2 separate regions of the Homo sapiens genome follow, and region 1 is linked to region 2. The links come from fine-mapping of genetic effects on gene expression. A gene starts in region 2. The other region holds a variant in brackets. All regions are shown on one strand. Distances are between the middles of the regions.

Region 1 (5,377 bases), 73 kb before region 2:
TGATTTTTAAAAAATGTTCGAAACACATTTATTTTCTAAATCACCTGAAGTTGACTTATATAAGATAATTTCAACAAATAAAATGTTCAATGAAAAATTGTGGTATGCAACGTACTTATGTCATTACAAGTTGAGGAACAAAGATATTTTTTAAATTAACTGTAGGTTTTAGGGAAACATTTATTATACAGTACTACCAAAATAAAAGTGGATCCCTAAGAACAGCTCAAATACCCAGTGAAGTATTAAGAGGTTAACTATAATTTGTTTTCAGTCATATTCAGAAAATTTAATGTGTTTACTTGCTTGTTGAGTCTTTACAAGTTTAATCTTTTTGGCTTTGGTGATTAACTTTTAGTACCTCTTTCTTTTCCCTAGCTGATTAAGTTTGGCCTACCTATCAACAAAAATCTGCCAGTATCTTTGTGATCACCAGAAAAGCCCTTGAGTTTCCAGCGGTATTTCTTTTTAATTTCTGTAAGTGCACTTATTATTGCTTGAGATCCTCAGGAGTTTTGAATCTAGCCTGGCATTCTGTATCTCTTTCTAGCAAATCAACATAAACAACTCCTGAGATTGCTCCAAAGTATTGCATACAAAAGCACTTACAACTTTAAAAATGGGTAAAAATCAACCAGGCATGGTGGCTCACACCTGTAATCCCAGCACTTTGGGAGGCCGAGGTGGGTGATCACTTGAGGTCAGAAGTTTGAGACCAGCCTGGGAAACATGGTGAAACCCCATCTCTACTAAAATACAAAAGTTAGCTGGGCGAGGTGGCGCACACCTGTAGTCCCAGCTACTCAGGAGGCTGAGGCAGGAGAATCACTTGAACCTGGGAGGCAGAGGTTGCGGTGAGCTGAGATCACACCACTGCACTCCAGCCTGGGTGAGAGAGCAAGACTTGGTCTCAAAAAAAAAAAAAGGGTAAAAATCGTTGTGTGTGTGTGTTTGTTGTGTTTTGTTTTGTTATAGTCACACCTGTGTATCAAACACTTCCCCTGGGGCATTTCAGTCCTTGCCCTCTAGCAGGGCACAGTGTGATGGAGGAGGGTTCAGAGAGCTCCCAGCCAGATGGGATGTGCTTGAGCGTGTATGTGTGTGCATAGAAATAAAGATCATCAAAAAGACAACAAACGTAAAAAAGCAATACAGGAACACATTTAGTGAGCACATGCTACGGGGATGCTGGAGAGAAGAGGCCAACTCAGGGACGGAAGGCAGGGACACCCTCTCTGGCTCTGGAGCACTGGGACTGACAGTTGCGACATCCATAATTCATAGCCCATCAATCTTGGAGGGTCCTGTGCTCTGACCCTTTTAAAAATGACCCTCTTCTCTGATAGCTGAGCCCTCCTTGGAGGCCCAGGGCAGAAAGGTTTCTCTGCAAGACATCCTCTGGTGCCCAGCATGATGGATGAGGAGGCCAGAGCTGCTCAGGGCAGCTGAGGCCAGTGGGGCTGAGTGGGGAGATAAATATAGCAGCAAATCCAGCTCTGTGTATAGAGAGTGCGGAAGGCCAAAGGGCAGTGCCCTGGGTAGCATTGAACATGTAAGAGGTGACTTAACAAGCGCAGCTCGTGAAGGAAACAGGGAAGGAGCAGTCAGAGAAAGGTGGAGAAAACAAGCAGTGTAATGCATCATGGAAGCCAAAAGGGAAGACAGCTTCACCAGGACAGCGGAGACGCCAGCGGTGCCTGCAGAGTCCTCCAGAGAGGCCCCTGCCATGGAGGGTGGAAACGTGCCTCGTGAATTTGATCAGTAAGAGGTCCTTGGGGAGCCTGGGGAGAGCAGTATCAATGAAAGGTGGAGGCAAAAACCAGGTTTCCATGGGCTGAGCAACAAATAGAAAGTGAAGAAGGGATACTAGGAGTCAGATTGTCAGATTTAGCAAATAAAAATACAGGATGTTCACTTAAATTTCAATTTATCTGACATTTGAATTTCAGATAAACAATGAATAAATTTTTAGTATAATAAGTATGTCCCAAATATTGCATGGGACATACATAAACTGAAATAATTATTTGTCATTTATCTGAAATTAAAGTTCAAGTGGGCATCATGTATTTTATGTGGCGGTTCTAACAGGTTAGCGTGTGGACTTCTCTCCCAAACAACTTGTCTGGGAAGAAGAGCTGATTGCTAGAGCCATAGCTAGAAAGGGACCCCAGTCAATGGAAAGTTGTATTTAGGATGGGATCATCTAAGCGTGTAGCCCAGGCAGCACTTTCTGTAGCCTGTTTGTAGGCCGAAGAGAAAGAAGGAGAGGCTAAAGACACAGTTGGGAGAATGCTAGATTATTGAAACCATGGGCCTCTAATCAGGACCAGCAATCATTTCACTGGATCCACCCATAAAAAGCAGAAAGTCCCTCCCCAACACTCCATTCCACTAAAAGCTCAGAAAAATGCAAATTTCCAACATTGATTTGCAAGTGTATTCCCGCTCCTGCAAACTGCAGGATTGTGGATTTCATACAAACTCTATCCAGTAGATTTTTGTTTCTTTTGTTCTTTTGTTCTTTTTCTTGGTGTTTTAATGGACCACCATAGCTGAAAATATTTTGCTAAATAGAGCAATCCACTTTGCCAACTTCAGCATTTCTTAAAATTCTGTCACCAGATAGAACCATTTTTAATAGCTAGATTCCATAACCAGTTCAGGCCTCAAGCCTAGGTCTTTTAAAGCGAATGAATCAGATTAGTGCTGAAATCGAGCTCCTCCTTCCTCTTTTTCTATTTTTACTCTTACTGCTAATGGCGAAGTTATCAAAGCCTCTTTTGATGATGAAATAATTGTATCATTGAATCATCACATGACTGAGTCAACAGCTGTTTTTCTTCCTCATCACACCAGTTTCCA[G/A]GGTCACATCTGGCTTGAGAAACTTGAAGTCTGGTGTCCTTTTGTTTATTTTTGTTCCTTTTCCTCTAATTCCTTAGATTTCTGCCAGATTGGGAGCCTTCATTAGTGTTTTGTTTCTGTGTTCGTGAGACAGAAAGGCAGACAATGGTTTTTTTCCCCTTTCCACAAATGCTAACTTGAAGTCTTGTTTTGTTTTCATTCACTTTTGAGGCAGAGTCCAGCCCACCAAGTCGAATTCTTTGCTCAGTTTTAGGCATGTAGACCCCACAGCAGAAGCAGTGCTGTGGCTTCCGCTGTCCTTCCTAAGAATGTCCCTGGCTGCTAACTGTTTGGATGTTCCCCTCCTTCACTAGGGACTTTGAGACTGTTAATAAGAAAAAAATAACAACATTGGGCTACACCAATTTCCCTTCTCTCAAATTGCTTGTTCTATGTTAGTTTCAAAACAAGAGTTTGCCACCTTGGTTTTAAAGAGAGCACTAATGGACTGCCCCCAGTGCTACCTGTTCTGTTTCTAATCTGCTCCAGGATCCGACAGAATCCATATAAGGTAGAGGACAATTGCTTTGAACAGACATCCTCAAGATAGTTCATAATTTTGCCTTTGGTTTTCTCATTTGTAGCACTCAGGATAGAGCTTGGTCTTCTTTGGTGCCTGAGATTTAGGATTGGGCAGGAGGAGGTTATGTTTGGGATCTGCTTTCAAGTAAAATATCTCTACCAACTAATGAGTAATTTAAGATTCTCTCTCTATATGGTACTTATCCCAAGAGGTAGACAAGTACAGACGGGGTGTAGCTAAAGCTGGGGCCATGGCGGGACAGGAAAGTTTCTTTATGGGTCAAAATACTTGCAGTGTTAAACAGGCATGTTACCAAAACAGGTTCCCTCAGGGTGATGGCTCTTCGTCTGCTAGGCTGACCAGGGGGCCCAGATGGTGTGCCTGATATCTGGGAGGACGTCTCCAAGAATGTGTGACTTAAGTCACCTCACCTGGAGGTTGAAGGCCTTACATTATTTAAGCCAGAAAGGACTTCGAAGACCCTGTAGCCTCAGGGCTCCCAGACTTAATTTCATGGTCTATTACAAGTTGGAAGTAAAATACTGTAAAAAGTAACTGGTTGTCGATAAGTTTTATTTTGCCAGTTGAGCAAATAAAATACTCACCTTCTGTCATCATTTCAGAAAAGTACCTTTTAATGTAAAAAATATGGAAGACTTATTCTCTCACTCTTAACATAAAGGATATATATCCCTGTCCTTCCCCAGAAAGTCAGTATTAAACTTACACTAACAGTACACAAATATACTGTATTATATGTCTGTGTGTATCAATATGCATGCACATCATCATCCTCCTCCTTACTTTTTCCTTATCACATGGGTAGCTGTAATGTAGTGATTTAGTACGTGGACTCTGGGACCAGGATACCTGAGTTCAAATCCAGGCTCTACCACTTACCATATGAAGACCTTCAGGTAAGTTACTTAACCTCTCTGAGCCTTGGTTTTATCATCTATCATGTGAAGGTGTTAATAAGAATACATACTTTTCCAGGTGGTTATGAGATTAAATGAGTTAATATATGAAAACCACTTCACACAAAGGAAATACCCAGTAATTCATAGCCATTGTTATATTATTTTGCCACAGACTAGTGAAATCTTTATAAATTGGTATCTGGGAACCACTGACAAAGCACTCCTTTCCTTTTCCATATAAGGAACAACTTAAGTCTAGAGTGGGCATGATTTGTCCAACTCAGGTCATGGCCAGTCAGTGACTGGCATGGGCATAGAACTCAAGTCTGCTGACCAAGTCCAATGCATCTCTGAGGTTTCCTGGAAAAAAAAAAGTCAGTTAGGCAAATGACTGGAGGGTAGGATGGGAATCAGTGAACATGGGCTGAGTGTGTGCATAGAGAGGGGCGGGGAGCCAGCACTTGAGCAGAGCACACTAACCAGTTTGGGAACCCCAGGGAAGTCTGGCCATTGCTGTCTCCTTTCTCTTTCCTCCAACCTCAGAGAAAATGAATATAGGAGCAGGTGACAGCCTGGGGTTGGGGGTCGAGGGAGTCTGCACGTGGGATGGAGTAGGTCGGTAGCAATGCACTTCTACCTCTTCCTCCTTCAGCCTTCAGTCCACCCATAGAACATACGGCTGAATCTCCAAAGTCCTACCTCTTACGACTCTGCTGGTACAGTCTGTTGGATGGAGGTCCTGCCCCTCCCAGGCACCAATCACCAGAGCAACCAAGGCTGGAAATAATGCTCAACCCTTCCACTCATTTTTGCTGCTGTGGTTTGGGGACCATTCTCCATTTCCTAAGCAGACACAGCCTTGGTGAGGACCATGGGATCAGGTAGGATTGCACTCAGTGGCTGGTAACAGAATCCATGGGACTATGGCTTCTTTTTCACTCCCCATAGCAGGAAATCAGGGTGTCCAGGGCAGGCTCCTTTAGTCCCTCTGTTCCATCATCCTTCACATATGACTTTCATCCTCATGACC
Region 2 (5,377 bases):
GGTCCCAAGAACCTGGACCCCTGTCTACCAGGATGGCGACTGTGTTGAACTGGGAAGTGCTTGTCCTGACTAAAGGTGTTCAAATCCTTTTTTTTTTTTTTAACCAATGCTTCAAAATATACCAGTAGGGTTTGTGGGAGTGGGGAACACAGAAGAAACAAGATTGGCCATGAGTCGGTAATTGTTGAAGCTAGGTATTAGATAATGGGGATATTAATACTATACTGTGTAAATATGTATACGTTTTAAAATTTCCACAAAACTTTTAAAAAATTAACGTGCTGTCAAAAAAAATTAGGTACTCAAGCCATATTAGGTCCACAAGCCACTGATTAGCAAACTCTATTCTGGACACTCCTGAATATCCTGCTGGCCATGTCTATACTTCTTTCCAATTCTCTCTGCATAGCGTGGGATGCGGGAGATAGGAGAGGGAGGAAGGGAGATAACTGGCTTAGGCAGGGCTTGGAAGTTGGCCATCCATTCCCGAGAGCATAGACTCTTGGGATTTGGATGGCTGTCATACAAATGGATACAGGTGACACCCCTGCCCCTGCCCATACTCCACACTCCTTCCAGTCTGTCTATCCCCACAGACACTCTACCCATCATCCCTGTACCTCACTGTACTTTGCTCACCTTATTATTTTTTGAGACAGGGTCTTGCTCTGTGACCCAGGCTGGAGGGCACTGGCGTAATCATAGCTCATTACAGCCTTGGTCTCCTGGCCTCAAATAATCCTCTCACCTCAGTCTCCTAAGTAGCTGGGACTTCAGGTACACACCACCACACCCAGCTAATTTTTAAATTATTTGTACAAACAGGGTCCCCCCATATGGCCCAGGCTGGTCTCGAACTCCTGGGCTCCATTAATCTTCTGCCTTCGTCTCCCATAGTGCTGGGATTACAGACATGAGTCTCCGTGCCCAGCCAGTCTTTTTTGCCCTCTATCATCTACCACCCACCATACCAAGGGAAACAAGCAAATCTGGCGTCTGATGTTCCCGGCCTGCAGAAGACGCCATATCCCATCTGGATGAGAAATGAAGCACATGAGCAGCCTGGCAGAGCCACAGTTAATGTGAACCTGGAGAGGAACCGTGCTGTCTTCCAGCAAGACCTCACCAGCAGGGCGTGAAGCCATGAGATCTGGGGTGGAAGGGGGTTGGAGAAAGGTCTGGGTTTTATTTTTCCTTCTCCTTTTCTTAGGCTAATTACCATTCATCGCAATCCCTTTCCTAAACCCTAATATCTTCCCAGTTTATAAAGTGCTCTCACATTTACAATATTTAATCTTCCCAACCCTGTGAGGTCAATATTATCCATATTTTGTAAATGAGGAAACTGAAGGTCCTCATGATCAAGTGATTCACCTAAGACCATAGCTTGTGGGTGGCTGAGCCCAGGGCTGCAGACCCTAATTTTAATGTTCTCTCCTCTACCCCATATTGCGGAGGGCAGGCAGGCAGTCCCCTGTCATGGGGCTCTGCAGCTCTCCATGGAACCAATAATGGAGAAGAAAATTGCGTTGCATTTTCTAAGTAGTCAGCTGGGATGGCAGGAATTTATTTATTTTATTTACTTATTTATTTTTTGAGACAGAGTCACGCTCTTGTTGCCCAGGCTGGAGTGCAGTGGCACGATCTTGGCTCACTGCAAGCTTTGCCTCCCAGGTTCAAGCAATTCTCCTGCCTCAGCCTCCCTAGTAGCTGGGACTACAGATGCCCGCCACCACACCCAGCTAATTTTTTTGTATTTTTAGTACAGACAGGGTTTCACCATGTTGGCCAGGTTGGCCTCAAACTCCTGACCTCAGGTGATCCGCCTGCCTCTGCCTCCCACAGTACTGGGATTACAGGCGTGAGCCACTGTGCCTGGCCATGGCAGGAAATTTTGATGGGCATCTACTTACCTGCAAGTGTGTTGTGCTTTCTTAATTGAGGGGCATTGTTAGAGGATTGTTAGAGGTAGTGGTGTTACTTGACTGGGTCTTCTGGGGTGTTGATGTGCACAGGGGAAATTTGGATTTCCCATCACTTTGTGTGATGACCACACAGCCCCTAAATCTCACCTAAGTGTGATATGGAGAAGCTGAAAGAAGCCACTACATTGTCCACATGAGCTAGGAACAGTGACTTTAGGTCTTACATTAAATCTTAATTCTGCCTTAACTTTGCTGTGCAACTCAGGCCAGACTTCTCCCTCTCTGGTTCTCAGAACAGCCCTGGCAGCCAAACCGAAGTTATCTCCTATGCCAGCCTGAGACTCCACTCCCTTTGCAACCTCCTGGAGAAGATAACTTAGGGAAAGACTGTCACTGCTCAGAGGAAGCATCCCAAACCCCTCACTGGTTTAGGAATTTAACACTACCGAGCAACGGCCCCAGAAGGCAAGGCGATTGTTAGGAGGAATTAAACAGGCTAGTGCTGGACCCAGCCATCCAGTCCTGGCTTACACAGAGGTTGCTTTTCATGCCTTTTCACTCTGTTAATTTGGCTTGTTTTCCAAACATGGGTCAAACAACCCCTCTCCAGAAGCGGCAGCAGCAGAAGGAAATGTTATTAAAAATGAGTCTGTTAGTGGGAATGGTGTGTGGATGAAGTCTTTGGGAGTTTTGGCTGCCAAATAAAGACTTTATTGTCATTCCTCCTTTCCCAAGCTCCCTCCCTCTCTCCTCCCCTCCCCTCCCTCCCTCCTCCCTCCTCTCCTCCCCTCCCTCCCTATGATCTGCCCCTCCCTCCCCCCAAGCTAACCTCCCCACCCCAATAGGATCTGGTGGAAGAAAAGTCAGGCAAACACAAGCACGCACACACCACTGGGAGATCAGATCTTCTAGCTGGCTCTCTGCTGCCACAGCTCCGCCGAAGGGAGGGGGTGGAAGAGGAGGACTAAACTCAGAGCTGAGAGGAGAGGCAGGTGTGTGCAGGTAAGCCCAGTTGGGAGATGGGCAGGAGACTGGGAAGAATCTTTCATCCAGTAAGTTTCCTCCAGCTCTGTCCATTTATTGATCTAGTCTCTATCCTCTCACTCCTTCCTTCCTCCCACCTCTTTCTCCTCTCAAATGAGTTCAAATTTAGTCTTCCTAACTTCTTTCCTATAGCCTCTTCCTTTTCTTTTCATCACTCTGTACCCCTATATTTGCTTACTGCAAAAGTTAAGCTTTCCTGCTGCAGATGTTTGTTGTAGCACAGAGAGCCACGCTGCACAAAGTGTTTCTACAGATCAGGTGTTTCCATAGAAACTGGACTCCAGAACCCATTTCTTTGCACCTTTTGTGTATTGTCACACATTGTGGAAGTCACACACATCACACGGAGGCTGCACGTTCACTACCATCACCCCACACGACCATACAAAATGAAGACATCCTGTCCATTCACCTCTGCCCTCTGCATCTGACATGCAGAGCTAGACCACATCATCACCAGACACCAGCAGACACACACACACATGCATGCACACATGTTCCCTGCATCTTGTCTCTCGCCCTCTCACACACACCTCCCTAGCTGTAAGAGCAAAGATAAAGTACGTTTTCCCACTGAGATGGCAGAGCCAGAAGAAAATCTTGCATCCCAAGTCCAGGCCGAATAGGGAGGAGATAAGCAAGAGCGGGAGCTGGAAGGGTTTCTTCATTATTTAGGGCTTCACTGGGTAGGAGGGAGAGAAAAACGGCTTTTTCCAACCTGCACAGTGTCTTCTCAGCAGCTTTCAATTTCTGTCTCACTGGTCCAAACCACTTGGCTTTTGGAAAGAAAGAAGAAAGCGACCCAGTTCCCAATCCTTGAAGGTCCTAATTCCCAGCTCTGGGGACAGTTCATTTTTTTATTTTTTTTTCCTGCAGGCAGCCAGAAAAATATTTTTCTTTAAAGCCGTTCTGAAATTATTCCAACCATTTAGGTTGGCAAAAGGTCCTGTGGCAGAGGAGAAAAAAAAAAAAAGGCAGCAGTTCCTTAAGCAGTTGGGGAGGGGAAAACTGAAGGGCGGCCCCTCTCCTGCTCCCCTGCTCATTCCTCTCTATTAATAGAGAGGGTCTGTCCCAAGGCAGGCGGGGTGTAGGGAGATCAGGGGTCCCACACACAGCTGATCTTCACAGTCACCTAAGGGCTGGAGAGGGAGGAGTGTGGAGGGCTTACTAAAAATACAGATGTCGGCTCTCACTGCAGATCTACTGAATCGAGACCCAGGAATCTTGTTTTAATACTTCAGGAGATTCTGATGGTCCACCAGGGCTCGAGAATCAGGGGCCTGAGAGAGAGCTTTGCTGTAATTTTTAAGCCCAAGACTCCGGCAGTGTTAGCTGGGCAGAAGGACTGTGTCCTGGAAAAGGAGCACCAGAGTGTCCCAAATAGGCCACCTCTTTTTTGGGGAGTGGGAGTAAACAGGGAAGAGCTGTCTCCCTCTCTCCTCCTTGCAAGCACAAGCAGCCATATATACCACAGAGGAACATTCCAGTAAGAAAGTTCCCCCAAGATGGCTCCACAGAGCTTCTGTTTCCCCTCACCTGTTAATCTGCCTGCCCCAGGACCCCAGGAGCATGTGCTGGGCCCTTCCCCTGACCCTTATAGGTCCCTGCTCCTCCTTCCCAGCAGCCACCTGTCTGGGCTCTCACAGAGGGTGAGCTGAACACTTTCTTCATGCCCCCTCCACCTCCCTAGTGGGCAATCCCATTTATTGGGCATGTGAGTGAAGCATTTCAAGGCTGGAAGGGGCAAAAAGCTGGGAGAAGTCAAGAATCGCAGTGGAACTCCATGGCCCACTGAGGAAGGCAGACTTGCACCTTCTGTGGCCAGTGTCCCCTCACCTGTTGCAGAAAGCATCGGTGAGAAGTTGGTGAATTAGAAAGACAGAACAAGCTTTCCCTAGGTGGCTGGGGACTTCCAGAGTCTCCTCAGTTAGTTGTTTCTGAGACCCAAGTGTGATCTCACAAGCCACAAAGGGGAGGAAGTTGCTCTGTGTGGAAGAGCTGGTACCCCACTCACAAGGATCCCTGCCTTCGAGCAGTGCATGGGGGCTGCCCTCTAGCCAGGCTGGAGGGAAGGAGACCCCATTACTTTGAAATAATATCAACAAGACCTTAACATTCAGAAAACACTCACTTTGCATGTATTAACTCATTTAACCCTCAAAACAGAAAAGAAGGTGTTAGTATCCCCATTTTATAGAGCAGAAAAGCAATTGCTTTGCCTAAGCCTACCTAGCTAAGCATCTGAATGAAGAACTGCAGGATTGGGTCTCAGATCTATAATCACTCAAGGCATCAGACACACTCTTCTAGGCTTTCTTCAAGGCTTGGAGATGCTGGGGGAATGGGGCAGAGGATATGGTAGGTGGCGGGCTGTCAGAGAAGAGTCGTCTCACCCTGGTTTCTTCCCC

Which allele goes with the higher level. Alleles are on the strand shown, and positions count from the first base shown. SD is a standard deviation of normalised expression in the study named.
In carriers of allele G in region 1, the expression in thyroid of the gene that starts at base 2,795 in region 2 tends to be lower than with A alone (small effect, 0.12 SD a copy in GTEx).

What was found.
Region 1: its variant is fine-mapped to the expression of PRELP in thyroid (GTEx, PIP 0.93).

Annotation. Positions count from the first base shown.
Region 1 is chr1:203,399,996-203,405,372 of GRCh38, forward strand. It overlaps BMNCR (bone marrow associated non-coding RNA), which reads right to left. Exons shown (of 3, transcript XR_001738390.3): 3 at 4,738-5,377. It overlaps LOC102723529 (a long non-coding RNA gene), which reads left to right. Exons shown (of 7, transcript XR_922438.3): 7 at 1-97. It also overlaps the pseudogene LARP7P1. Among named protein-coding and RNA genes, the nearest start is that of BMNCR, 4.9 kb to the right of the region's middle. The variant G/A (reference allele first, on the strand shown) is at 2,866.
Region 2 is chr1:203,473,012-203,478,388 of GRCh38, forward strand. It overlaps PRELP (proline and arginine rich end leucine rich repeat protein), which reads left to right and starts at 2,795. Exons shown (of 3, transcript NM_002725.4): 1 at 2,795-2,927.